Homo sapiens: one gene and its partners. Changing the gene in region 1 together with any one later gene gives a genetic interaction. Each region holds a gene or a part of one and is shown on either strand. Other genes may lie near its edges. The genes, in order: SEC24C, SEC31A, UBE2J1, NPRL3, CTBP1, TRAPPC12 and RAB1A.

The links.
Region 2: changes in SEC24C (region 1) and SEC31A together harm fitness less than expected from each alone (positive genetic interaction), as found in Homo sapiens cells (one large-scale study listed by BioGRID).
Region 3: changes in SEC24C (region 1) and UBE2J1 together harm fitness less than expected from each alone (positive genetic interaction), as found in Homo sapiens cells (one large-scale study listed by BioGRID).
Region 4: changes in SEC24C (region 1) and NPRL3 together harm fitness less than expected from each alone (positive genetic interaction), as found in Homo sapiens cells (one large-scale study listed by BioGRID).
Region 5: changes in SEC24C (region 1) and CTBP1 together harm fitness less than expected from each alone (positive genetic interaction), as found in Homo sapiens cells (one large-scale study listed by BioGRID).
Region 6: changes in SEC24C (region 1) and TRAPPC12 together harm fitness less than expected from each alone (positive genetic interaction), as found in Homo sapiens cells (one large-scale study listed by BioGRID).
Region 7: changes in SEC24C (region 1) and RAB1A together harm fitness less than expected from each alone (positive genetic interaction), as found in Homo sapiens cells (one large-scale study listed by BioGRID).

What each region holds. Positions count from the first base shown.
Region 1 is NC_000010.11:73,754,372-73,757,871, reverse strand, and holds part of SEC24C (protein transport protein Sec24C), read right to left. Parts: intron 1-3,500. UniProt on the Homo sapiens protein: Component of the coat protein complex II (COPII) which promotes the formation of transport vesicles from the endoplasmic reticulum (ER).
Region 2 is NC_000004.12:82,877,654-82,881,153, forward strand, and holds part of SEC31A (protein transport protein Sec31A), read right to left. Parts: intron 3,270-3,500; coding exon 3,146-3,269; intron 1,276-3,145; coding exon 1,077-1,275; intron 1-1,076. UniProt on the Homo sapiens protein: Component of the coat protein complex II (COPII) which promotes the formation of transport vesicles from the endoplasmic reticulum (ER).
Region 3 is NC_000006.12:89,342,723-89,346,222, reverse strand, and holds part of UBE2J1 (ubiquitin-conjugating enzyme E2 J1), read left to right. Parts: intron 1-2,466; coding exon 2,467-2,540; intron 2,541-3,500. UniProt on the Homo sapiens protein: Catalyzes the covalent attachment of ubiquitin to other proteins. Functions in the selective degradation of misfolded membrane proteins from the endoplasmic reticulum (ERAD) and is essential for cells to recover from ER stress.
Region 4 is NC_000016.10:86,674-90,173, forward strand, and holds part of NPRL3 (GATOR1 complex protein NPRL3), read right to left. Parts: intron 3,230-3,500; coding exon 3,040-3,229; intron 2,218-3,039; coding exon 2,025-2,217; intron 198-2,024; coding exon 32-197; 3' UTR 1-31. UniProt on the Homo sapiens protein: As a component of the GATOR1 complex functions as an inhibitor of the amino acid-sensing branch of the mTORC1 pathway.
Region 5 is NC_000004.12:1,211,131-1,214,630, reverse strand, and holds the end of CTBP1 (C-terminal-binding protein 1), read left to right. Parts: intron 1-157; coding exon 158-288; intron 289-1,025; coding exon 1,026-1,153; intron 1,154-1,600; coding exon 1,601-1,718; intron 1,719-1,860; exon of another isoform or gene 1,861-1,956; intron 1,957-2,091; exon of another isoform or gene 2,092-2,204; coding exon of another isoform or gene 2,205-2,207; coding exon 2,208-2,391; 3' UTR 2,392-3,186; downstream 3,187-3,500. UniProt on the Homo sapiens protein: Corepressor targeting diverse transcription regulators such as GLIS2 or BCL6. Has dehydrogenase activity. Involved in controlling the equilibrium between tubular and stacked structures in the Golgi complex.
Region 6 is NC_000002.12:3,473,694-3,476,879, reverse strand, and holds part of TRAPPC12 (trafficking protein particle complex subunit 12), read right to left. Parts: intron 1-3,186. UniProt on the Homo sapiens protein: Component of the TRAPP complex, which is involved in endoplasmic reticulum to Golgi apparatus trafficking at a very early stage.
Region 7 is NC_000002.12:65,086,354-65,089,230, forward strand, and holds the end of RAB1A (ras-related protein Rab-1A), read right to left. Parts: intron 2,718-2,877; coding exon 2,586-2,717; intron 2,338-2,585; coding exon 2,140-2,337; 3' UTR 501-2,139; downstream 1-500. UniProt on the Homo sapiens protein: The small GTPases Rab are key regulators of intracellular membrane trafficking, from the formation of transport vesicles to their fusion with membranes.

The DNA of each region.
Region 1 (3,500 bases):
TATCTGTGGCTCACTGCAGCCTTGACCTCCTGGGCTCAAGCAATCCTCCCCCTAAGCCTCCCCTCCCAAGTATCTGAGACCACAGGCACACACCACCACACCTAGCTAATTTTTTTTATTTTTTGTAGAGACAGGGTCTTGCTATGCTGCCCAGGATAGTCTTGAACTCCTACCCCGGCTTCACAAAGTGCTGGGATTACAAACATGAGCACTGTGCCTGGCCCAACTCTAATCAAAGTGCCTTTCTCCGATAATCCCTTCCAGCCCGGACTGAGGTGTGGTTGTTCTACATTTGTTTCCAGAAGGTACTCCAATAATGACAGTGTCACCCTAGATTGATTTTTTTTTTTTTTTAGTTTTTGAGACAGGGTCTCACTCTGGCACCCAGGCCACAGTGCAGCGAAGCCATCATGGCTCACTGTAGCCTCAACCTCCAGGGCTCTAGCAATCCTCCTGCCTCCACCTCTGCTTCCCAGGCACACCAACAATGCTCAGCTATTTTTTTTTTTTTATAGCGACAGGATCTCCCTATGTTGCCCAGGCTGGTCTAAAACTTCTGGCCTCAAGTGATCCTCCTGTCTCAGCCTCCCAAGGTGTTGAGATTACTACAGGCATGAGCCACTGCACCTGGCCTCTAATTTAAAAAAAAAAAAAATTAGGCCAGGTGCAGTGGCTCATGCCTGTAATCCCAGTACTTTGGGAGGCCGAGACAGATGGATCATTTGAGGTCAGGAGTTCAAGACCAGCCTGACCAACATGGTGAAACTCCATCTCTACTAAAAAAATACAAAAATTAGCCCAGGCGTGGTAGTGCACACCTGTAATCCCAGCTACTCAAGAGGTTCAGACAGGAGATTCACTTGAACCTGGGAGGTGGAGGTTGCAGTGAGCCAAGGTCACACCACTTCACTCCAGCCTGGGTGACAGAGCGAGACTTCATCTCAAAAAAAAAAAAAAAAAAAAAAAAAAAAATTGGCCAGGAACAGTGACTCACACCTGTAATCCCAGAACTTTGGGAGGCCAACACAGGTGAATCACTTGAGGTCAGTTCAAGACCAGCCTGGCCAACATGGTGAAACCCTGTCTCTACTAAAAATACAAAAAATTAGCCTGGCATGGTGGTCATGCCTGGAATCCCAGCTACTTGGGAGGCTGAGGCAGGAGAATCACTTGAACCCAGGAGGCAGAGGCTGCAGTGAGCTGAGATCGTGCTATTGCACTCCAACCTGGGCAATAAGACCAAAACTCTGTCTCAAAAAAAAAAAAATATTACTGAGATGTAATTTCCATACCATTAAATTCACTTCAAGTGAACAATTCAATGATTTTTAGTAAATTTAGTTATGCAACCATCACCAGAATCAAATTTTAAAACATTTTCATCATTCCAAAAAGATGTCATGTCCATTTGCAGTCCCAAGAACTTTTTTTTTCACCCATCCACAGCCAGCCTGAGAGAAACAGCACTCCTTATCTCCCCTTTCCAGCGTGCAGACTTTTTTCCCCTAGTCAGCTTGTTCAATGAAGGTGCAGCCCAGGTCCAGACTTTATAAACAATGTCTCAGTTCCAAAACTACTCTCAGGAAAGCCCAAGGACTCATCTGCCTTCCCCAGTACCTGCTTAAATTTAAGGCCCTGGCTTCTCAAGATGATGAATCCACCCAATCTACAGGCAGCTCCAGAGTCAATTTACCACTCTGATTTTCAGTCCTCACTTGATGGCCAGGCACAGTGGCCCATGCCTGTAATCCCACCACTTTGGGAGGCCAAGGTGGGCGGTTCACCTGAGGCGAGGAGTTTGAGACCAGCCTGGCCAACACGGTGAAACCTCATCTCTACTAAAAATACAAAAATTAGCCGGGCATGGTGGCCCACATCTGTAGTCCCAGCTACTTGGGAGGCTGAGGCAGGGGAATCGCTTGAACCTGGGAGGTAGAGGTTGCAGTGAGCAGAGATCGTGCCACTGCACTCCAGCCTGGGCGACAGAGCAAGACTCTGTATTTAAAAAAAAAAAAAGATTTTCAGTCCTCACTTGGTCTCTAAAACTTAAGAATTTCACATTTTCTTTCAAGCTTAACTTTGCACTTAAAAATTTTTTTTGTTTCTATTTTCTCTCTCCTTTCTAGACTTTGGTAGCAGAGGGTTTTCAGATTATGTCAATCTACCACCCGGTTGAAACTTTTTTTTTTTCCTGAGACGGAGTCTCGCTGTCTGTCGCCCAGGCTGGAGTGCAGTGGCAAGATCTCGGCTCACTGCAAGCTCTGCCTCCTGGGTTCACGCCATTCTCCTGCCTCAGCCCCCCAAGTAGCTGTGACTATAGGAGCCTGCCACCGCGCCCAGCTAATTTTTTGTATTTTTAGTAGAGACGGGGTTTCACCGTGTTAGCCAGGATGGTCTCGATCTCCTGACCTTGTAATCCACCCGCCTCGGCCTCCCAAAGTGCTGGAATTACAGGCATGAGCCACCGCGCCTGGCCTGAAACTCTGACTCACTCCAACTGGGTAGTTTTCTTTATCTCTACACTGAAACTGCCTTTACCAATGACGCCAACCTTGCCAAATTCAATGGTCAATTCTCCATCTTCATCTTACAATTTGGCAGCATCTGACACAACTGATTACTCTCTCACCTTCTTGAAATACTCTCTTCACCTGACTTCAGGACACCACACTCTCCCGGCTTATCTCCCACCTCACTACTGCTCTTTCTCATTGTCTTTTGTTTTTTTTTTGTTTGTTTGAGATGGGGTCTTACTCTGTCATTCAGGTTGGAGTGCAGCGGTGCGATTTCGGCTCACTGCAACCTCCGCCTCTTGGTTTCAAGCCATCCTCCCACCTCAGCCTCCCAAGAAGCTGGGACCACAGGCATGTGCCACCACACCCGGCTAATTTTAGTATTTTGGTAGAGACAGGGTTTCACCATGTTGCCCAGGCTTGTCTCGAACTCCTGAGCTCAAGCAATCTGCCTGCCTCAGCCTCCCAAAGTGCTGGGATTACAGGAGTGAGGCACTGCACCTGGCCCCTCATTGTCTTTTAATGGCGGCTCCTCTTTACTTTTAAATGTTGCTAAGCTCCAAGTCTCAGTCCTCAATTCCATTCTTTAATCTCAATACTCACTTTTTAAATGATTTCATCTAGTCCCACGGCTTTAAATATCTATAGACTGAGGACTCCCAAATTTTTATCTCCAGTCCTAGCATCAGTCTTGAGCTGCAGATTTGTATATGCACCTGCCTACCTAACATCTCTACTTGAATAGAGTTTATATGAGGGACTTGAGCCTTTGTGGATTTTGGTATCTGTTGGTCAGGGGAGGTCCTGGAACCATTCCCCCATGGATACTGAGGAATGACTGTAGTGAGATTTGGGATACATCTTGAAGGTGGAATCAATAGAATTGGATGTGGGTTATACGGCATCATATTTGCATATAACCTCCCATATACTTTTTTTTTCCTGAGACGAAGTCTCACTCTGTCGCCCAGGATGGAGTGCAGTGGC
Region 2 (3,500 bases), on another chromosome or scaffold:
CAGTACAAAGAATCTTAATTGACTATTTGTTAAATCTGCATTACATTTCTTTTTTCTTTTTTTGAGTTTTGCTCGTTGCCCAGGCTGGAGTGCAATGGCACGATCTCAACTCACTGCGATCTCCGCCTCCCGGGTTCAAGCGATTCTCCTGCCTCAGACTCCCGAATAGCTGGGATTACAGGTGCCTGCCACCATGCCCGGCTAATTTTTGTATTTTTAGTAGAGACGGGGTTTCACCACGTTGGCCAGGCTGGTCTCGAACTCCTGACCTCATGATCTGTCTGCCTCGGCCTCTCAAAGTGCTGGGATTACACAGGTGTGAGCCACATGCCCAGCCATTACATTTAATTTCTAATTATTTCATAGAGTATTAATCTCTGTCATAAACATAAAATTTCTCAATTAATAAAACAGTGAATTAACCTGGACATCACAGCACCAGCCTAATGCTGACCTAGCATGAACTTTTAAAAGGCAAGGTTTCCAACCTATAGGGATCTTAATGTTTATAAAATGTCTAATCAAATGGCGTGACATCTTCAGACTTAAACCTATTAGCCAGCTGGGCACAGTGGCTCACGTCTGTAATCCCAGCACTTTGGGAGGCCGAGGCGGGCGGATCACAAGGTCAAGAGATCGAGACCATTCTGGCCAACATGGTGAAACCCCATCTCTACTAAAAGTACAAAAATTAGCTGGGCGTGGTGGCAGGCGCCTGTAATCCCAGCTACTCGGGAGGCTGAGGCAGGAGAATCACTTGAACCCAGGAGGCAGAGGTTGCAGTGAGCCAAGATCATGCCACTGCACTCCAGCCTGGTGACAGAGCGAGACTCCGTCTCAAAAAAACAAAAACAAAAACAAAAACAAAAACCTATCAGCCGGATCCTTTTCATGGAGGTAGTATTTTTAACCCTGATCTCAACTCTGAACCCACCATTCTTTAAACAAACACTCGTCAACCTGTATAGCCACAGTTTTTTAACTTTCAATTCCAAAACTGAGGCATAGTAGATTCATATACTGATTTCAAATGAGCAGCACATAGTCTAAGAATTATGAAATGTTAAAGTCTTAACCTGGAAAATGTTCACATCCAAGGCTCTCACTGGGCCAGTATGCTTGTCATTCTGGGCAATCACAACTTCCTTGTCTCCAGCTATAATTTTAGAAGGATCATAGAGAATAATATTTCCATTTTCACCACCTGCAATCAGAACTCCAGAGACATCTCCTTTGGAATCCATTTTATAAGGCCCCCAAATCAACTTGTGGTACCTACAGGAGAAAATGAATAAAATCATTCATTCTTAAAGTCAAATAAATGTAGACAAAAAATTGAAATTATACACTTAATTTTTAATGTTTTCATAAACAATCCAAATATATTACTTTCCCACCACTCCTGGTAACTATGTATGACTTTGGTGTAATAGTATTTCATTTTTTATTTATACTCATATTTGCATATGTGATTTTGTAATCCTTAAAGAGTAAAAACTCTTGTAAGGTAGTGTAACAAAATATACTTGAGTTGTGTGTCAAAAAATATGAGCTTAAGAATGATTTTACCATTTAGAAACTGTGAGACCCTAAGTTACTTAATCTTCTTAAATTGCCTCTGGTTCATTGTAAAATAGAGCTAATCAATCACTTCCCTCGAAAGGTAAAAACACTCTTTATTTGACTATAGAAGGGTCTCATGCTTTGACCTTTGTCTGAAAAAAAAAAAAAGGGGGGGTCACTAACAAGTGGTCTGTTAAATAGTAAAGGTGTTAAAGGAGTCATGTGAAATTTTCTAAGAAAAAGAATGTATTCTAATGGTAGAAAAATGACATCAAGATTATAACAAGTACCCCTACTATTAGAGAATAAAATATATGGTCCAGAATGGAGATGAAATATGAAGGCAGAAAGGTATACGATGATACAGATGGTAGTAAGCAGAAAAACTACTAGACAAAAGGTATCTGGGGTTCCCATCCCACTGTGACAGCTCTGAAGAATATGAGCGGTCCCATGAAACTGCATGATTTGAGCTATATTCTGTCAGCTAAAGAGCAATCTCTTTAAACCCTGCTAATATATTGAGGCAATAAAGCTTATTTTATTACTGAAATGAAGACCTCCTTTCTCTGCATTACAATAGGGCATAAGTACTTGAAAGTATGATCCAAATACCTAGTTACCTAGTGTATTAGAAATCGTGTCAACAAAACTGTGAGATATATTTCTAAATATCGTAACAGAAGAAAATAAAAATAAGCTACCATTCAGAGATAATCACTATTAATACTTACGATGACTACTCCTTTTCTAGTCACATCTACCTTTTTGTAAACAGGCACAATAAAGGAGATAGAAAAAAGAACTCTATACAAAATTAGCCAGGCATGGTGGCACATGCCTGTAATCCCAGCTACTCGGGAGGCTGAGGCAGGAGAATTGCTAGAACCTAGGAGGCAGAGGTTGTGGTGAGCCGAGATTGCGCCATTGCACTCCAGCCTGGGCAACAAGAGTGAAACTCCATCTCAAAAAAAAAACAAAAACAAAAAAAACCACACACACACCAAAAAAACAGAAAAAAATGCTAGAAACTACAGCCTCTCCTTCCTACCTTACATGTAACAGCAATAAAAAAGCCAACAGAACATACTGGCCAAGCGTGATTCCTCATGCCTATAATCTCAGCACTTTGGGAGGCTAAGGTGGGTGGATTGCTTGAGGTCAAGAGTTCAAAACCAGCCTGGCCAACATGGCAAAACCCTGTCGCTACTAAAGACACAAAATTAGCTGGGCAAGGTGGTGTGCACCTGTAATCCCAGCTACTCGGGAGGCTGAGGCACAAGAATTGCTTGAGCCTGGAAGGTGGAGGTTGCAGTGAGCCGAGATCGTGCCACTGCACTCCAGCCTGAGCTATGAAGTAAGATTCTGTCTCAAAAAAAAAAAAGAAAAAAAAAAGTCAATAGAACACATAAACACTACTTTTACTTCCATAAAAATTCACTCACATGCTTTTTCACAAAATATTTCATGTTCTTGATGGTATTCCTTGTAGTTTCTAATAATGGCATAATTATAGACAAATTAGGAATCAAGAACAATATATAATTAAATAATCACATGAATTTAAAGCTGAACCTCATACCTGTGAGAAGAGGAGAATGTGGCACAAGATTTCATATCCAAGGATGGATCAGAGAGGTCTAATTCAAATATCTCAAGGGAAGCATTCGTACTAAATGTTGCATCCAATTGCTGAGCAGATGTTCCTATAGAAAATATATTTATGGTAACTATACACACAAAAATAAAAGATCAGAGAAACCATACAAAACAGAAGTTAAAAGCATGTTTTCCATTCTCTTGCTCATGAATGCTGCACATATGCCATTGAGCAGATGCTTAAATTACTATAGCAATGAGATTCTGGCACAGGGCTAGGAGAGGATGTTTATAAGAGTGGGTAGTGTAAATAATTTTTTAAGCCTGTATATATTTAA
Region 3 (3,500 bases), on another chromosome or scaffold:
AAAGAATATTAATAATTGTGAAGTAGGATAGTAACAACTTTTTTTTGGCCAGGCATGCTGATTCCCGCCTGTAATCTCAGCACTTTGGAAGGCTGAGGTAGGAGGATTGCCCGAGACCAGCCTGGGCAAGACAGGGGGACCCCAGCTCTACAAAAAATTTAAAAATTAGCCAGGCATGGTGGTGCATGCCTGTGGTCTCAGCTATTGGGGAGGCCAAGGTGGGAGGACTGCATGAGCTTGGGAGGTTGAGGCTTCAGTGAGTGAGCTGTGTTCGTACCACTGCCCTCCGGCCTGGAGGGCTTTTTTTTTTTTTTTTAGACGTAGTTTCGCTCTTGTTGCCCAGGCTGGAGTGCAACAGCACGATCTCAGCTCACTGCAGCCTCCACTTCCTGGGTTTAAGCGATTCTCCTGCCTCAGCCTCCCTAGTAGCTGGGATTATAGGCATGTGCCATCACACCAGGCTAATTTTGTATTTTTAGTAGAGATGGGGTTTCACTATGCTGGTCAGGCTGGTTTCAAACTCCTGACCTCAGGTGATCCACCTGCCTCGGCCTCCCAAAGTGCTGGGATTACAGGCCTAAGCCACCGTGCCTGGTTTTGTTTGTTTGTTTGTTTGTTTTATTGAGATAGTCTCTCTCTGAAGCCCAGGCTGGAGTGCAATGGCACGACCTCAGCTCACTGCAACCTCCACCTCCTGGGTGCAAGCGATTCTCCTGCCTCAGCCTCCCGAGTAGCTGGGATTACAGGCGTCCGCCACCATGCCTGGCTAATTTTTGTATTTTTAGTAGAGACAGGGTTTCACCATGTTGGCCAGGCTAGTCTCGAACTCTTGACCTCAGGTGATCCACTCGCCTCGGTCTCCCAAAGTGCTAGGATTACAGGCATGAGCCACCACGCCTGGCCTCAAATGCAATTTTATGCAAAAGTCTTGATACATACCAAACCATTGTGGTTATATACATGTAGGGGTTCCTTCTCAGTTAATCTCTCTCCCCATAACATTCCAACCTGTGCCTCTACACATTTTACTTTTATTATTACCTCTTCCTATTCATATCTACCTGGGGAGTTTCTACTGTTATTTCTTTCACATTCAGTACCTGACTCCTTTTCTCTTCCATTTGCTCTAAAGTTAGATGCCCAGCCTGTCCTCCCAGCATCTGGTGCATACCTCTCTTTTGAGCTACATCAGTGGTTGCAAACCCAGTTTTGAGAAGCCTTTTCCCTAACTCAGCCATCCCACTGCAGTATCCTGACATGTTTTAGCACCAAAAGCTTGAAATGAGAGGGGTTGGGATCCAGAGTGCATATCAAAGGATTGAATTTTGAGAGCCAATAGAAGACAGAGGGTGCAGATACAGATAGGATTGTAGATTGTGATAGGCATCTGAGCAGCTCCTGCTAGCAGTCATTCATCAGGGAGATAAAAAGCTGGGTGCCATTAACTGAAAGAGAGGAGAAATTAGACTAGGTGGGAAATAATCTTGGAGTGCTAGGTGGAAAGAGTAGGCTGGAAGGCCTACTAGAGAAATGTGGGGACATTAGGTGGCATTGTATCCCAGTAGAGGTTGTTGGTAATGACTTGTAATGGCATTACTGCACCATCCTCTCTGACTTTTTTTCCTCCTTTCAGTGATGCTCAGCTGTTTGGGTATAGACAGCAAATAAGATGGTTGGGTTGGGTCAGGCACAGTTGGATTTTATTAAGGGAGTGTACAAGAGGGACTCCTAAGAGCCAAGGGTGTGGATAAAGAGGAAAATGAATATAAGTATAGGAGGGGTGAAGAAAGTTGTGGGGTCAGTGGACTGGAGGTTTTAGTGAAGCTGAAGGATCATTTCAAGAAGGAATTTCATCGGGGCTTTGGAGAGTCAGTGAATTCAGGGGACAGTCCATTCATTTAATGCAAGATAGTGGATGGAAAGTCCCAAGAGTTGGAGGATATAGAGGTGTTTCCTGTTCACCGAGCATGAGATCCAGAGAATACATTTTTTGTTAATAAAGACATTTTAACAGGTAGAGCCAAATTGCCTGTGTTGGAATCCCATCTCTGTCATTTACTAGCTGTGTGACTATATAATCTCTCCGTGTCTCGGCTTCTTCATCTGGAAAATGGGGATAAAAATAATACCTATCTAGTAATGTTGTATTAAGGGTTAAATGAGTTATTAATGTCTGTAAAAGCACTTCAATAAATACCACCATATAGGAAGTATATATAAGTACTTATTAAATAAAAATAGTGTCTTCACTATATATTTAATATATAACTCTTTTAAAGTGTTAATGCCTAGCAACTGTTTCCTTCCTCTCCCCCTCTATTTATTCCCATAATCTTATAATTAAACCTTTGCCATATGCTCATTTGCACTAGTTCTCTACACATTTTTTCATTAGGCTCGTAAGACTGTGCTAATCATTCAGAAAAGTATATTTTAAATATCTCTATTTTATGAATTTTATTTTAGCTGTTAAACGTTTAATGAAAGAAGCGGCAGAATTGAAAGATCCAACAGATCATTACCATGCGCAGCCTTTAGAGGTTAGTTTCTATCTCCATGTTCTTCATATGGATTTTAATATTTAAAACAAATTTTTTAAAATTGCTTTTCATTGCTTTGAGTCATTACAGATGTGTGTGATGTAGTTTGACGTTTTATTCACCATATTTCATGAATATTTCATTAGCCATTCCAAATCACTTTAGAAGAAACGGATTTTGTGGTCTTTATAAAATGGGTCTCAGATGCTAAGTTGAGGTTAGATCTTTTTTTTTTTTTTTTTTTTTTTGAGGCGGAGTCTCACTGTGTTGCCCAGGCTGGAGTGCAGTGATGTGATCTCGGCTCACTGCAACCTCTACCTCCCAGGTTCAAGCAATTCTCCTGCCTCAGCCTCCTGAATAGCTGGGATTACAGGCCCCCACCACCACGCCCGGCTAATTTTTGTATTTTTAGTAGAGACAGGGTTTCACCATGTTGGTCAGGCTGGTCTCAAACTCCTGACCTCGTGATCCACCCGCCTTGGCCTCCCAAAGTGCTGGGATTACAGGCGTGAGCCACTGCACCCGGCCGAGGTTAGATCTTGAGTCTGAGGGAGGGGAGGTGGAAAGAACCCCAGATACTTTACAGTTTGGAAGCCTTTTGATGGGTCTCCGTAGCTACTCAAGGCTTTTTGTATAAACATCTCGGCCTCTCTCAGTCTTCTCATTTGTAAAAGGAGGGTATTTAAATATACCCAGGCAGGTTTTCATGGTAACAGTGGGAATAAAAATATCATAACTTAAGTGCAAGTATTTTGTAAACTGAAAAGTACATGGTAACTGTAAGATGACATTAAATACATTAGTATTACCATTTTATAAATAAGCTCTTAGGCATCTATAAGGGATAATTTTTAAAGATTTGTTAAAATAACCCAAACATAGTAATTTTTTGATTATATAATTATCATAATTTGCTATTCTTTCAAGGATTAATTTCCAATTTAAACCTGTAAGTTACTT
Region 4 (3,500 bases), on another chromosome or scaffold:
ACCCCAGCAGCCTTCCGCCCTCCGCCTGGGCTCAGGGGAGCAGAGCCTGGAAGACGGCAATGACAGGGTCCTCGTGGGTGGTCACCACCAGCACGCTGCGGAACTTGTCAAACAGCATGAGCAGCTGGGAGCGCCGCGTGTTCTCGTTGTACATAATCTCCTCCAGGTGGTGGCGGCCGCGGAAGTAGTGAAGGAGCCTGGAAGGGATGGGTGGGTGTGAGCCCAACCTGACACCAGCCCCCAGAGGCCTCTGCTGAAGAGCCACTGCTGGGAATCAGCTCTGAGCTGCCCACAGGCCTGAACAGAGCTGGTGGTGAAGGCCAGGGAGGCAGCCACCACAGCCCCCCAACAAGGGTGGGCAGGCCTCCTGGACCCCATGCCCACCACGGTCCCGCTGACCACCAGGTGGGCGGAGTGGGTTCAGGACGGCAGACGGCTGTTCAAACCCAGAGGTGCCCAAGCCTGCGTCCTGATGTTGGGACCAGGGTTCTGCTGGTGGCTTCTTTTTCGTGCTACAGTGAGTCCCACGTAGCTCTGGAGCCAAATGGTCACTGCTTTTTTTTTTCCTTTTTTTGAGAGACGGAGTCTCACTCAGTCACCCAGGCTAGATTGCAGTGGCTCGATCTCAGCTCACTGCAACCTCCCGCCTCCCAGATTCAAGCGATTCTCCTGCGTCAGCTTCCCAGGTAAGCTGGGACTACAGGAGTGCGCTACCACACCTGGCTAATTTCTCTCTTTTTTAGTAGAGACAGGGTTTCATTATATGTTGGCCAGGCTGGTCTCGAACTCCTGAACTCAGGTGATCCACCCACCTCAGCCTCCCAAAGTGCTGAGATTATAACCGTGAGCCACTGTGCCCAGCCTGCTTTTTTTTTTTTGAGACGGAGTCTCGCTCTGCTGCCCAGGCTGGAGGTGCAGTGGCGCGATCTGGGCTCACTGCAACTCCCGCCTTCCCGCCATTCTCCTCCTCCCGCCAAGCTCCGCCTCCCGCCTTCAGGCCATTCTCCTGCCTCAGCCTCCCCAGTAGCTGGGACTACAGGCGCCCGCCACCACACCCAGCTAATTTTTTGTATTTTTTAGTAGAGACGGGGTTTCACCATGTTAGCCAGGATGATCTCGATCTCCTGACCTCGTGATCCACCCACCTCAGCCTCCCAAAGTGCTGGGATTACAGGCATGAGCCACCGCGCCTGACTTTTTTTTTTTTTTTTTTTAATGTCACCATCATTTGGAAGGTCACTGCTTTAGGGTGCTTTCTGCAACTCAGGCTGGCACAGAGGAGGCTAGGATGCAGGTGAGACCTGGACCAGCTGCTCAGAAGAGTTGCAAGTGGTTCTCTCGAGGGCCGAGTGTGGTTCTCAACCGGAAACTCAGTCCCTGACAACCCGACCACTCCCGGGAAACTATGCCCCTGCACTGTCCCCCAAGTCAGGGTGGGGCTGACAGAGACCACTGAGCCACATCACCTTTAACATGGGGGACCCTGGATGCCCGCAGGGCTTACAGTCCTGGGCAAACCCCTGCCAAGTCCCATGAGGGTGAGAACTTGGCACTTAAATTAGCCGGGCGTGGTGGCGGGCGCCTGTAGTCCCAGCTACTCAGGAGGCTGAGGCAGGAGAATGGCGTGAACCCGGGAAGCGGAGCTTGCAGTGAGCCGAGATTGCGCCACTGCAGTCCGCAGTCCGGCCTGGGTGACAGAGCGAGACTCCGTCTCAAAAAAAAAAAAAAAAAAAAAGAACTTGGCACTGCCTCTCAAGGGAAAAGGAACATCTAAGAAGTACTGGAGAGAGAAGAGTCCGAAAAATAGGCATGCCAGGCCCATGGCCCGGCGTCTTGGTGACAAGCCGAACCCTCAGGCCTGGGCAGTGGCACCTGCCCCTACACACCTGAATGCAGAGACTCCATCTCGAACAGGGCCCCATCTGTTCTCAGTGGATTTGGTGGTTCTGTTGCGTACGTCCCTATCCACTTTCTGCCCTGACCCTGCAACTGGCCCCAGTCCCAACGGGTCAACCTACACCCACCTGGCAAACATGCGGAGGTCCTCAGGGTTCTGGGCTGCGGGTACACTGAGGATGGCTGCGCGTTCATGCTCCGACAGGCTGGCCAGCAGGTTCTCCGTCATCCTCTGGTTCAGTGGCGAGTCCCCGCTGGGAAGTAGCTCTGCGCTGGAGTTGTCCATGCTGGGGCTGGTGAGGGTCATGTCATCGCTGCTGGCTGTGGGGGACATGGGTCAGGGTGACCAAGTGGAATTCCAGGACACCCAGGGGAACAGCGAGGGCAGAGCCAGCAGCCAGCCTCCAATGACACCCCTAACTCCTACAAGGGTTAGGGTACATCTGCCTGCAAGCATTCGCTGCTGCCCCACCTCCTGGGTGTGACACGCCCCTCATACGGCTGACTTGGGAAACGGGTAGCCTCCCCTCTGGGGGCAACCTCAAGGGACCTGAACAGAGGTGCGATGTGTGCCCCACAAACACCCCAAGGTGGGCCTGGGCATCCTGTCCCTCACCCAGGATGGAGGACAAAGCACCCTGGGCAGGTGGGGTCCTCACATGAAGCATGAAGCCTACAGCCAGACCTCAGCCAAGGGGGGACTTTCAAAGTCTTCCACCCCCTTCCTTCCCCAAGCCTGGGGACCGGGGACCTGGGACCTGGCAACAGGCTGCTGCCCTCAAGCCACACTGGCCATGACGGCTCTTCTGGGGCGCAGAGGTGTCAGCTGTCCTGGTAGTGGTATGAGATCCTGCTCTGCTCCCAGGCTGGGGCAGAGATTCCAGCACTGATTTGCTGGGCTGGGAGCTGCCCCTAATTCTAGCAAGCCTGCTGAAGAGCCCGGAGACAGAGCTGCCACCTCAGAGTCACGGTGGTGCTAGGAGACAGGAGAGGTGTCTCCACGGGGGACACGAGGCACGTGCATGTGCGTGTGCAGCTGTGTGGAGGCCCCTCATCACTCACAGCACCACCCACGTTGAGCCTCCTGGATGCCACCCCCAAGCGTCTCCCCTGACTACCACAGCGGTGCCCTGGGGGTCCTACTTGGGGAGCCAAAGCTGAGGGCGTTGGGCGTGCTGAGGCTGCGACCGCCGACCCGGGCAGTGAAGGGGACGTCGTCCTCTCGCGGACGGGGCTCCTCCTCGCTGGGTGAGGCCATCAGGCAGACATAGGTGTGCAGCTGGATGAGAAGCCGGCGCTGCAGCATCCACACCACCATCTGGATGAGCTGGGTCTGCGGGTGGCAGCAGGTGAGGCTGGTCCCCCTCCCCACTCCAACTTCCTCCTGGGTGATCAGGGAGCCATGGCCCTAGACATGGCCACAGCACGCTCCCTGTGCTGACGCACAGGCAGAAAGGCCCTCTTCTCAGAAAGGGAGCCCCCAGCTGCCAGCCAGCTCTGCAAGGCCCGCTCACCCTCCTGGGAAGGGAGAGGGGCCAGGGGAACATCTGGATCACACCTGCACAGGCTCCCACCACACACCGGGGCCACCCAGCATCTGGCTG
Region 5 (3,500 bases), on another chromosome or scaffold:
AGGCCTTCAGTCCTAGCGCCGTGGTGAGCCCAGGGTGGGGCTGGGAAGGGGCTAGGGAGCTGGGCCTTCCCAACGGCGTGCGTGACCACCTTGCTTCCCTGGCTGCCCGCCCTGTGCGGATCCCTGACTGGGCCTGGCCTGTCCTTATGTCTTCTAGATGAGACAAGGGGCCTTCCTGGTGAACACAGCCCGGGGTGGCCTGGTGGATGAGAAGGCGCTGGCCCAGGCCCTGAAGGAGGGCCGGATCCGCGGCGCGGCCCTGGATGTGCACGAGTCGGAACCCTTCAGGTGCCCCCACGGCCAGTGCCGCCCCCCTGCTCTTCCCTGTCCACCATCCTGCCGGCCTTGACCTCCAGACGGCGCCTCTGCCAGGCCGGACACTTGCCTGTACTCAGGCCTCTCGCTGGCCAGCAGTGGGGGAGTTTGCCGCCCGCTGCGGGGTGAGGATGGAGCCACGGGCTCTAGGCCTGCCTTGCCTCGGTCCTGTGAGGGGCTGCTCAACCTCCTCAGCCCTTCTTTGGGCAGGGCTCCTGACCAACCAGGAGAGAGTGAGGCCCCAGTGTCTGTGAGTGGTCCCCATGGGCCCTGGCCATGGAGTCATGGCATCCCGTCCAGACCTGCAGCCCCTACAGCACCTTGGGACCCCAGGCAGCCCTGGGTTGGATGTTCAGCCGCAAGAGGAGACACCCCCACAGGGGCAGTATCAGCCTGCAGCTCCTGGGGCTACAGACCCTTTGGCTGGAAGGGGCCAGGCAGCATGTCCCCCCATCAGGGCTCCTCCCACGAGGGACTTGGAGATTAAATCCCTTGGGCTCCCACACCCGCCGCTGTCAGGAGCCCCTGGTGTGTCTGATGGTCCCGGGGCTGTGCTCTTGAGCTCAGCCAGCCTGCCGAGCAGAGCAGGGCCGTGGGGTCTGTGGTTCCCAGGCAGGGCCCCCCACAGGGGGTTCCAGTGCCCAGCCACCTCCCCTCCGTACCCAGCCACAGCACTCAGGCTGCACTGACCATGCCTGTGCTGTTCCCAGCTTTAGCCAGGGCCCTCTGAAGGATGCACCCAACCTCATCTGCACCCCCCATGCTGCATGGTACAGCGAGCAGGCATCCATCGAGATGCGAGAGGAGGCGGCACGGGAGATCCGCAGAGCCATCACAGGTGGGCGTGGGGGCCGCTCGGTCAGGCCTGGGGGTCCCTTCCTGCCAGCCCCAGATGCTCATGGGCTCGCATCCGCCTGGCAGCCAGGCCCATGTTCTGCCAGCTCAGGGCCCGTGGTGCTCTCACTGCACCCCCAGCAGGGACCTCTAAGGCCAAAGTCAAGTTGAGCCCTGGCGTCGTGTCTTACACACAGGACCTGCTGGGAAGTTGCTGGGCTGAGCAGACAGGTCCCTCAGCAAGCTGGGCACGTGCTCTGGGCTGGGGGTCCCCACGCTGCAAGGGTGCCAGTGCCCAGAGAGACAGGACCCTGCCGTGCCTTGGGAGCCCCGGGGCTGAGAGGGAGGAGCACACTGCCAAGAATCCTGCTGCCCGTGTCTTCAACCCAGTGGGCCACGCTCCTGGGGCCCCCTCAGAGCCACAGCTGTTCCTTCCTCCTGCATCTCCCAGGCCGGATCCCAGACAGCCTGAAGAACTGTGTCAACAAGGACCATCTGACAGCCGCCACCCACTGGGCCAGCATGGACCCCGCCGTCGTGCACCCTGAGCTCAATGGGGCTGCCTATAGGTGAGCAGGCCCGCTGGCCCAGAACAGCCTCCAGGAGGGCCCCAGGCTTCCCCTGGATCCCAGCACAGCCCCTGGTGGGAGGGGCGGCGTCTCCACTGACTGACCTGGAGGATCTGGGTAGAATTGGTAAGGCCAACCTCACCTGAAAGGCCCATGAGAACCAGGGCCTCTTGGAAGGAGCCTGGGCTGGGGTGGCCTTCAGGGCTCAGTGGACACAGGAGTGCCATGGGCACGGGGCCTGTGGGAGGAGGGGGCTTTGGGTGAGGCGAAGACCTCATGTTCAAGTCACCTGGAGACACCAGGGCTCCCCTCCCCAGCCCTGAGAAGTAGCTGCCATAGGCAGGAACATCCGTGTAAAGGCCGGGATCCTTACCCTGACTGCTGGTCCTCCTGGAGAGGCCCCCTCGGTGCTGCCGATGCTAGGAGGGCAGGTGGGGCCTGGCCAGGCCGCCTACAGGTGGGCCTCACGGATGGACCCTCTCCCAGCAGGTACCCTCCGGGCGTGGTGGGCGTGGCCCCCACTGGCATCCCAGCTGCTGTGGAAGGTATCGTCCCCAGCGCCATGTCCCTGTCCCACGGCCTGCCCCCTGTGGCCCACCCGCCCCACGCCCCTTCTCCTGGCCAAACCGTCAAGCCCGAGGCGGATAGAGACCACGCCAGTGACCAGTTGTAGCCCGGGAGGAGCTCTCCAGCCTCGGCGCCTGGGCAGAGGGCCCGGAAACCCTCGGACCAGAGTGTGTGGAGGAGGCATCTGTGTGGTGGCCCTGGCACTGCAGAGACTGGTCCGGGCTGTCAGGAGGCGGGAGGGGGCAGCGCTGGGCCTCGTGTCGCTTGTCGTCGTCCGTCCTGTGGGCGCTCTGCCCTGTGTCCTTCGCGTTCCTCGTTAAGCAGAAGAAGTCAGTAGTTATTCTCCCATGAACGTTCTTGTCTGTGTACAGTTTTTAGAACATTACAAAGGATCTGTTTGCTTAGCTGTCAACAAAAAGAAAACCTGAAGGAGCATTTGGAAGTCAATTTGAGGTTTTTTTTTTTGTTTTTTTTTTTTTTGTATGTTGGAACGTGCCCCAGAATGAGGCAGTTGGCAAACTTCTCAGGACAATGAATCCTTCCCGTTTTTCTTTTTATGCCACACAGTGCATTGTTTTTTCTACCTGCTTGTCTTATTTTTAGAATAATTTAGAAAAACAAAACAAAGGCTGTTTTTCCTAATTTTGGCATGAACCCCCCCTTGTTCCAAATGAAGACGGCATCACGAAGCAGCTCCAAAAGGAAAAGCTTGGGCGGTGCCCAGCGTGCCCGCTGCCCATCGACGTCTGTCCTGGGGACGTGGAGGGTGGCAGCGTCCCCGCCTGCACCAGTGCCGTCCTGCTGATGTGGTAGGCTAGCAATATTTTGGTTAAAATCATGTTTGTGACTGTAACCATTTGTATGAATTATTTTAAAGAAATAAAAATCCTGGAAAGAGCCAGCGTGCCCAGCATCTATTCTGGTGACTTTCTCTCATGAGGACACGGGTGAGCCTCAGTCCTGGCTCTGGTGACCTCCACGGCTCAGCTCAGCCTCTCTGAAGTGGGCGGCCTAAGAGAGACCCAGAGACAGTGCAGTGGCAGGTTGGGCAGTGGTCTCTGTGTGTACCGGGCCTGTCCCTCTGCCCACTGGGTCTGTGGGACGCTGTAGGGTCCTGGCTTGGAGGCGGCCTGCCCGCAGTGCCCCAGTGGGAGGGAAGCAGTGTGCCAGCCGGGCCGTTGTGTGGATGATGGTGTGACTGGCTGAGGTCCTGCC
Region 6 (3,186 bases), on another chromosome or scaffold:
GAATGTGACAGCGAGCTCTGTTATCATGGCAGCAGCAGAAACTTAACAGAATGCTGTCCTCTGTCTCGATGAGAAACAAGCTGAATGCGCGCGGCTCACCTCCATGAGGAGGGCTGGGGCACCCATCACTATCATACTGAGCAGCCTAGTTAACTCTTAGACTGTCCACGCCAAGCATCTGTCCAGCATTAAAACAAGCCTGCTAACTTCTCAGATGACTGGTGGGGAGATGGTTCTCCATGGGTGTCATGTTTCTGCATGTCTTCCAAGCACAGACAGTGACAAGGCTTTGTTCAAAGCATTTACACAAGGATGCCTGTTTAGAGGACAGCCTTGTAAGCTAAACTGCATCCCTCTGGGGCAAAGGGCAGGCAGGCTCGCCTCCCAGTAGCAAGGATTTGGGTGTTCTAAGTTCAGGATTCCTCTCCAGCCACACAGCCCACTGCAGGCCTCATGAGGCCCTCGGTGAAGACCCTGAGGAATCAGGGCCCCGTGGCTGGTGGGAAGAATGCCACTCTGGCTGTACTGCTGTTGCTGTGTAATAAATAGCCTTCCTCTCTAACGTAGGAATCTTACATTTTTTGCCAGCATCCATGAAAGTGGCAGCTAACTCCACAGCTTGGAAACAGGATAACATCTCAGGCCCTTCACAACTGTTGCTGTTATCCCACAAAAGAAATACCATACGAGGAGGAAGAAAAAACAGAATGAAACAAGAGAAAACACAGGCGTGCACACACACCACACACTGAATGGCATCTGTCCATCGCTGCCCGTCGTCTGCACAGTCCGAAGCCGTTTGAAGTCCACTACTATCGATTTCCCACTTGCGGACTAAAAAGAAACCGAAGGCAGCATGGGCTCCGTGACGCGGCCCTCAGCTCGAACGCCTGCATCTCCTGTCTAACAGGACCGTGTGAGACACTGAACTGAAGATGATTACAGCCCATCATCAAGACCGATCAAGATTAACGTGTGCCGGCGGCCGTGGCAAGCGCTTACAAGCACAGCTCGCCTGACCCTCGCGACAGCCTGGGATGCAGATGCTGTCGCTAGCTTCGCTTTCTAGATGAAGTCGTCGGGCTTGGAAAGATGAGACAATTTTCTGAGGTCACACAGCTAACACAGAACACTGTGGTCAACACCCAGGCTGTCCAACGCCCAGACCGTGTGCTGATCCTCCGCACTGCAAGGCCTCCTGAGGCTGGCATGGGACTTTACTCAATGTCTCAGAGGAAGATAACAGAGAAATCTTGGGATATTCTTTGCTACCCACTGACTTTCCTGATGATTAGAAAGTAACTTGACATTTTCAGAATTATTAAAATGTAATTAGGATACAAAATCCTACCGATTTCTAAAAGTTAGGAGCAACTGAAAAAATTAAACATAAAAATGCAATTAAAAGTATTCCAGAATATGTAGAAAACAAATCAGTAAAAGACACTATTAAAAAGGAAATACAGTGGCTGGGCATGGTGGCTCACACCTGTAATCTCAGCCCTTTGGGAGGCCGAGGTGGGAGGATCGCTGAATTTCAGGAGTTCAAGACCAGACCGGGCAACAAAGTGAGACCTTGTCTCCATTAAAAAAGAAAAGAAAATTAGCCAGGTGTGGCTGTAAGCACCAGGTGTGGCCGTAAGCACTGTGGTCCCCAGCTACATGAGAGGCTAAGGCAGGTGAATCTCTTGAGCCCAGGAGTTCTGCAGTGAATCATACCTGTGCCACTGCACTCCAGCCTGGCAGACAGAGCAAGATCCTGTCTCACAAAGAAAAAGACAAAAAACAGTGTATAAACTAATCCAGAAAAAGGAAGCATAAACAGAAATGTAAAAGTAGAAATAGCTACAGGCAGAACAAGGAAATGGAAATAATGGTAAGAGCACTGTCTTTTACTCTGTGCGAATCCACGAGAAAACAGGGACCAAACAGGTGGCTTTCTAGAAAACTCTCAGTTACCAAAATGGTTCCCAGAAACACAGAAAAATCCTCAGGCACACAACACTAAGGCAGATTCATAATAATAAATTAGGAAAAGCACACAGCACACCTCATGTGCTCAGCAAAGGCAATTCTTAGGTGAATACTCAAACCTTCAGGGAATAGATCATTCCACATTACTCAAGTTTTCCAGAGAGAGAGAAAGCAAGCTTCTAACTTATATGAAGACAGAAAACAGCCACCATATCCTTTTGAGATGTCACCTGTGCACACGCAAACCAGATACTAACATCACTTATAAACGCAGAAACCCGGGGAAACGCCGCCCTGGAGCTCCGACCTTAAGAGCAACACATGGTCAGTGTTTCCGTGGCAGAAACTGGAACTGTGCGCTGGGTCTGGCCCTCCCCTCCTTGGGCGCTGTCAAGGTTAATACTGAGTGTCAATTTAATTGAAGGATGCAAAGTATTGATCCTGGGTGTGTCTGTGAGGGTGTTGCCAAAGGAGATGAACACTTGAGTCAGTGGGCTGGGGGAGGCCGACCCGCCCTTAATCTGGGTAGGCACCATCTCTTCAGCTGCCATCACAGCCAGAATAAAGCAGGCAGAAGTTGGAAAGAGCAGACTTGCCGAGGTTCTGGGACTTGGACTGGCTTCCTTGCTCCTCAGCTATTGTGGGACCTCACCTTGTGATCGAGAGTCAATTCTCCTAATAAACTCCCCTTCATAGATTCATCTATTCTATGAGTCCTGTCCCTCTAGAGAGCCCCAACTAATACAGGCACTGAGGGGTGGGGGAGAGCTCCAGTTCTCAGCTCCTTCACCTGCTTCTCTGTCACAGTTTTGGGATTCCTCATCACCTTGGTGGCACGGAAGCCATTACAGATGGGCAATGGCCATTTTAAAGTGTTCTCAAGGCGGAGTGTCCTGCAGTCCATGGCTGTGAGCTGTTGACTGGAGAGGAAGGCAAGAATGATTCTTCTCTGTGGTGTGGGAGTCAGATGATTTTAAACCATCCAAAGACAGAACAGCTATGTTAACAGCCACATAGGTTGCTAGATGATATTAAATCTGTAGTCAGCTAGAAAACCCAGTTCTTTTCATATTTACCACTGATCAACTTTAGTCACAGAAGCATAGGTCTGCAATTGATACAGAAAACTCATTTCAGCTGGGCCCAGTGGCTCATGCCTGTAATCCCAGCACTTTGGGAGGCAGAGGCAGGAGGATTGCTTGAGGCCAGGAG
Region 7 (2,877 bases), on another chromosome or scaffold:
TTAAAACCTGTAGTAGCTTTGAACCGTTTGTACTTGAAAATGGGGGTATAAAGGGGTATATATTTTTTCCAGAACCACATTTATTGGCGTATACATAGAAGCAAATCTTAAGGCATGCTGAAATTTGTTGTAAATCCCAATCTTTACTGCCATGGGGAAAAGAACGCTGGAATTTTCCAAACTTAAGTCTGTAAATATGCTCATCTTAAGTTCATGTAATGTTTCCGCTAACTCACCAAGAATAAGCTGACAATTTAAACAACTTTTACTGTGTAAAAATGAAGTGCACGGCATGGCATCACAGTATCTTGACATTTGTTTTGTGTCATTTAGCTACTTTAGAAAATAGTTTCTGAACTCTTTCCCCCTTTATACTGTATTAAGGCAAAAACAAAACTTCTGAAGCATTAAAGATCTTCACCAAAATAACTATTGGTAACTTCAGGAATTTGTCAGTTGCCTTATGTGAGGATGAATAGATCCACCAAGCACGCCTATAATACAAAGTAAACTATGATTTTTATTGTGAAATTTTCATAGATGGAAAATTGAATATTCTGTCCATTTCATTTTACAATTATCTTACCACTTATTTTTGTACCATGTATTTCAATTGCCTGTTTAGTGAAAAATAAAAATTAAAAAAACCTATTCATTTTTGGCTTGTGTTTAGCTTAAATTTTATCATTAAATTAAGGAGCCCACAACAAAATGTGTTGCCAGCAGCCATATCCCAAGCCCCTGCGTGAAGAATGTTTTGGCTGCTATTTCAACCTAAGGAAACAACGTTTGACCTCAGTCACCTTAAAATGCCAGTGTGGGCAGAAGATTTTTTATTCCTCACAATTAAAAACCAAACAAAACCCCCTAGGATCTTGAAGGTCCTATTTCAGAAAATCTTCATATATGCAAAATGTCACCAAAATAAATACATTTGCCTCAATTATCATTACCACCCAGTATTCATGTTTTAATTTTTAGGGATATAATTTCTAAATTTAGAGCAATCAAATTTCCTGCTTCCTATCTTAATGCTTAAACCCTCCTCCAACACCAAGTTAAGCAACTGTGGAGGATAAAATAGTTGAATCTGACTGAAAGCATGGAAGAAAAACATTAGCACACATTAGTCTGATCATTTGCCAATTAGGAAAGGTGCTGCTTTCTACCTCTACCACAGATGCATTTATGAAATGTTGATCAATGAAGCTATTTCAAATGGTTTTAGAGAAGGATCAGAGATAACGGGCTAGATAGCATACATTCTAAACTTGTTTTACATATAGTTTGAGCTCCCTGAACCACTGAAGTTGGTTAAATCCCTACACAGCACAGAAGCCCCTCTAGGTCATGTTATTGGGCATATTATCTAGAAAGCAAATACTGGATGCTGCTCTAAGATAGGTCTAGAATACCTTAGTTTGCATTGTGCACACACAAATGGCTGTGTTGAATATAATGCAAGGCTCTATTTCCCTTTAACCATAAGAATCAAAACAATACTTATCACCATACAGTTTGATATTACTTCCAATAAGTACAATATTTATTAAACATATCTTCAGTTGTTTTGTTACATAGTGTGCAACAAATTACAATATTCTGCAGCCACAAATTATATGCAGAGTATGAAGAAACTATTAATCAGATAGTGTAATCTTTCCATTTATAACTCTACAAGGAAGAACTAGCAAATCAGATCTTACATATAACATCTCACTAAACTTTATGCATGGAAAGTGACAGACACTGCTTGTGCTGTTTGATACAAAATGGCTGAACTTCATCTTCAGAAGACTAAACCTGACATCTAAACATGCCAATATAAACATCAAAACAAAATATATTCTAACCAACCACGGGAAACAGTCTGGTATCAGGAAAGCAACAAGGATTACACACATTATTTTATAAACCAGCACACAAAGGTTTAAAACAGTTCTGAAAATGAAGTTAGCTGTCTTGAGTCAAGGGAATAAAAAAAAAGTCAGTATTGACCATTTACAATCTCTGACCTTTGTGGAGACGGTAAGAATCTGTTGTAGTGCAGCTACATACAGTACAATTCAGGCAATTTTGTTTTTTCACTTGGGTTCAGATTGCAAATTCATTGCTGTGAGAAAAGGATGGAGGCAAATTTTAGCAGCAACCTCCACCTGACTGCTTGACTGGAGTGCTCTGAATTTTAACATTGGACTTCTCAGCACCACCAGCTGTTGCTCCGGGACCCATTCGCTTTTTAATCTCAGCTGCCATCGTCATGAAAGACTGTTCTACATTCGTTGCATTCTTAGCACTGGTTTCCAAAAACGGAATTCCAAGGGAATCAGCAAATTCCTAAGAGAATAATGAGGCACAATTAACACTGAAAAATCTTTTTCACTAATTCTTAGTGCATTTCTACCATCCATAATGGAGCGTGAGGAACTAAGTTCATTGGATCCAAACAGATGCTACACAAATTGTCACTGTCACAGTATTCTAGTGCACATATTTTTAAAAGGCTGTGGCCTTACTGTTACTGCAGAACCCATACATAATTCAACACCTTCAAATTCAGTATGAAAATTAAACTTTAAACATACCTTCGCTGTTGTGTAGTCTACTACTTTCTTTGTGGTCAGATCACATTTGTTCCCTACCAACAATTTGTTGACATTTTCACTGGCATAACGATCTATTTCCTGCAGCCACTGTTTAACATTATTGAAGGACTCCTAAAAAGACATTTGAAAGACTGATAATATAGTTCGATAATATAGTTCTGGAATAAACAGAAACATCGTTCCTGACCTAACAGACAAATAACAAAGAGCTAGTGAGACAACTCTAGCTACAAAATAACCACTGCTAAGGAGTGAAGAGATTTTTTTTTTT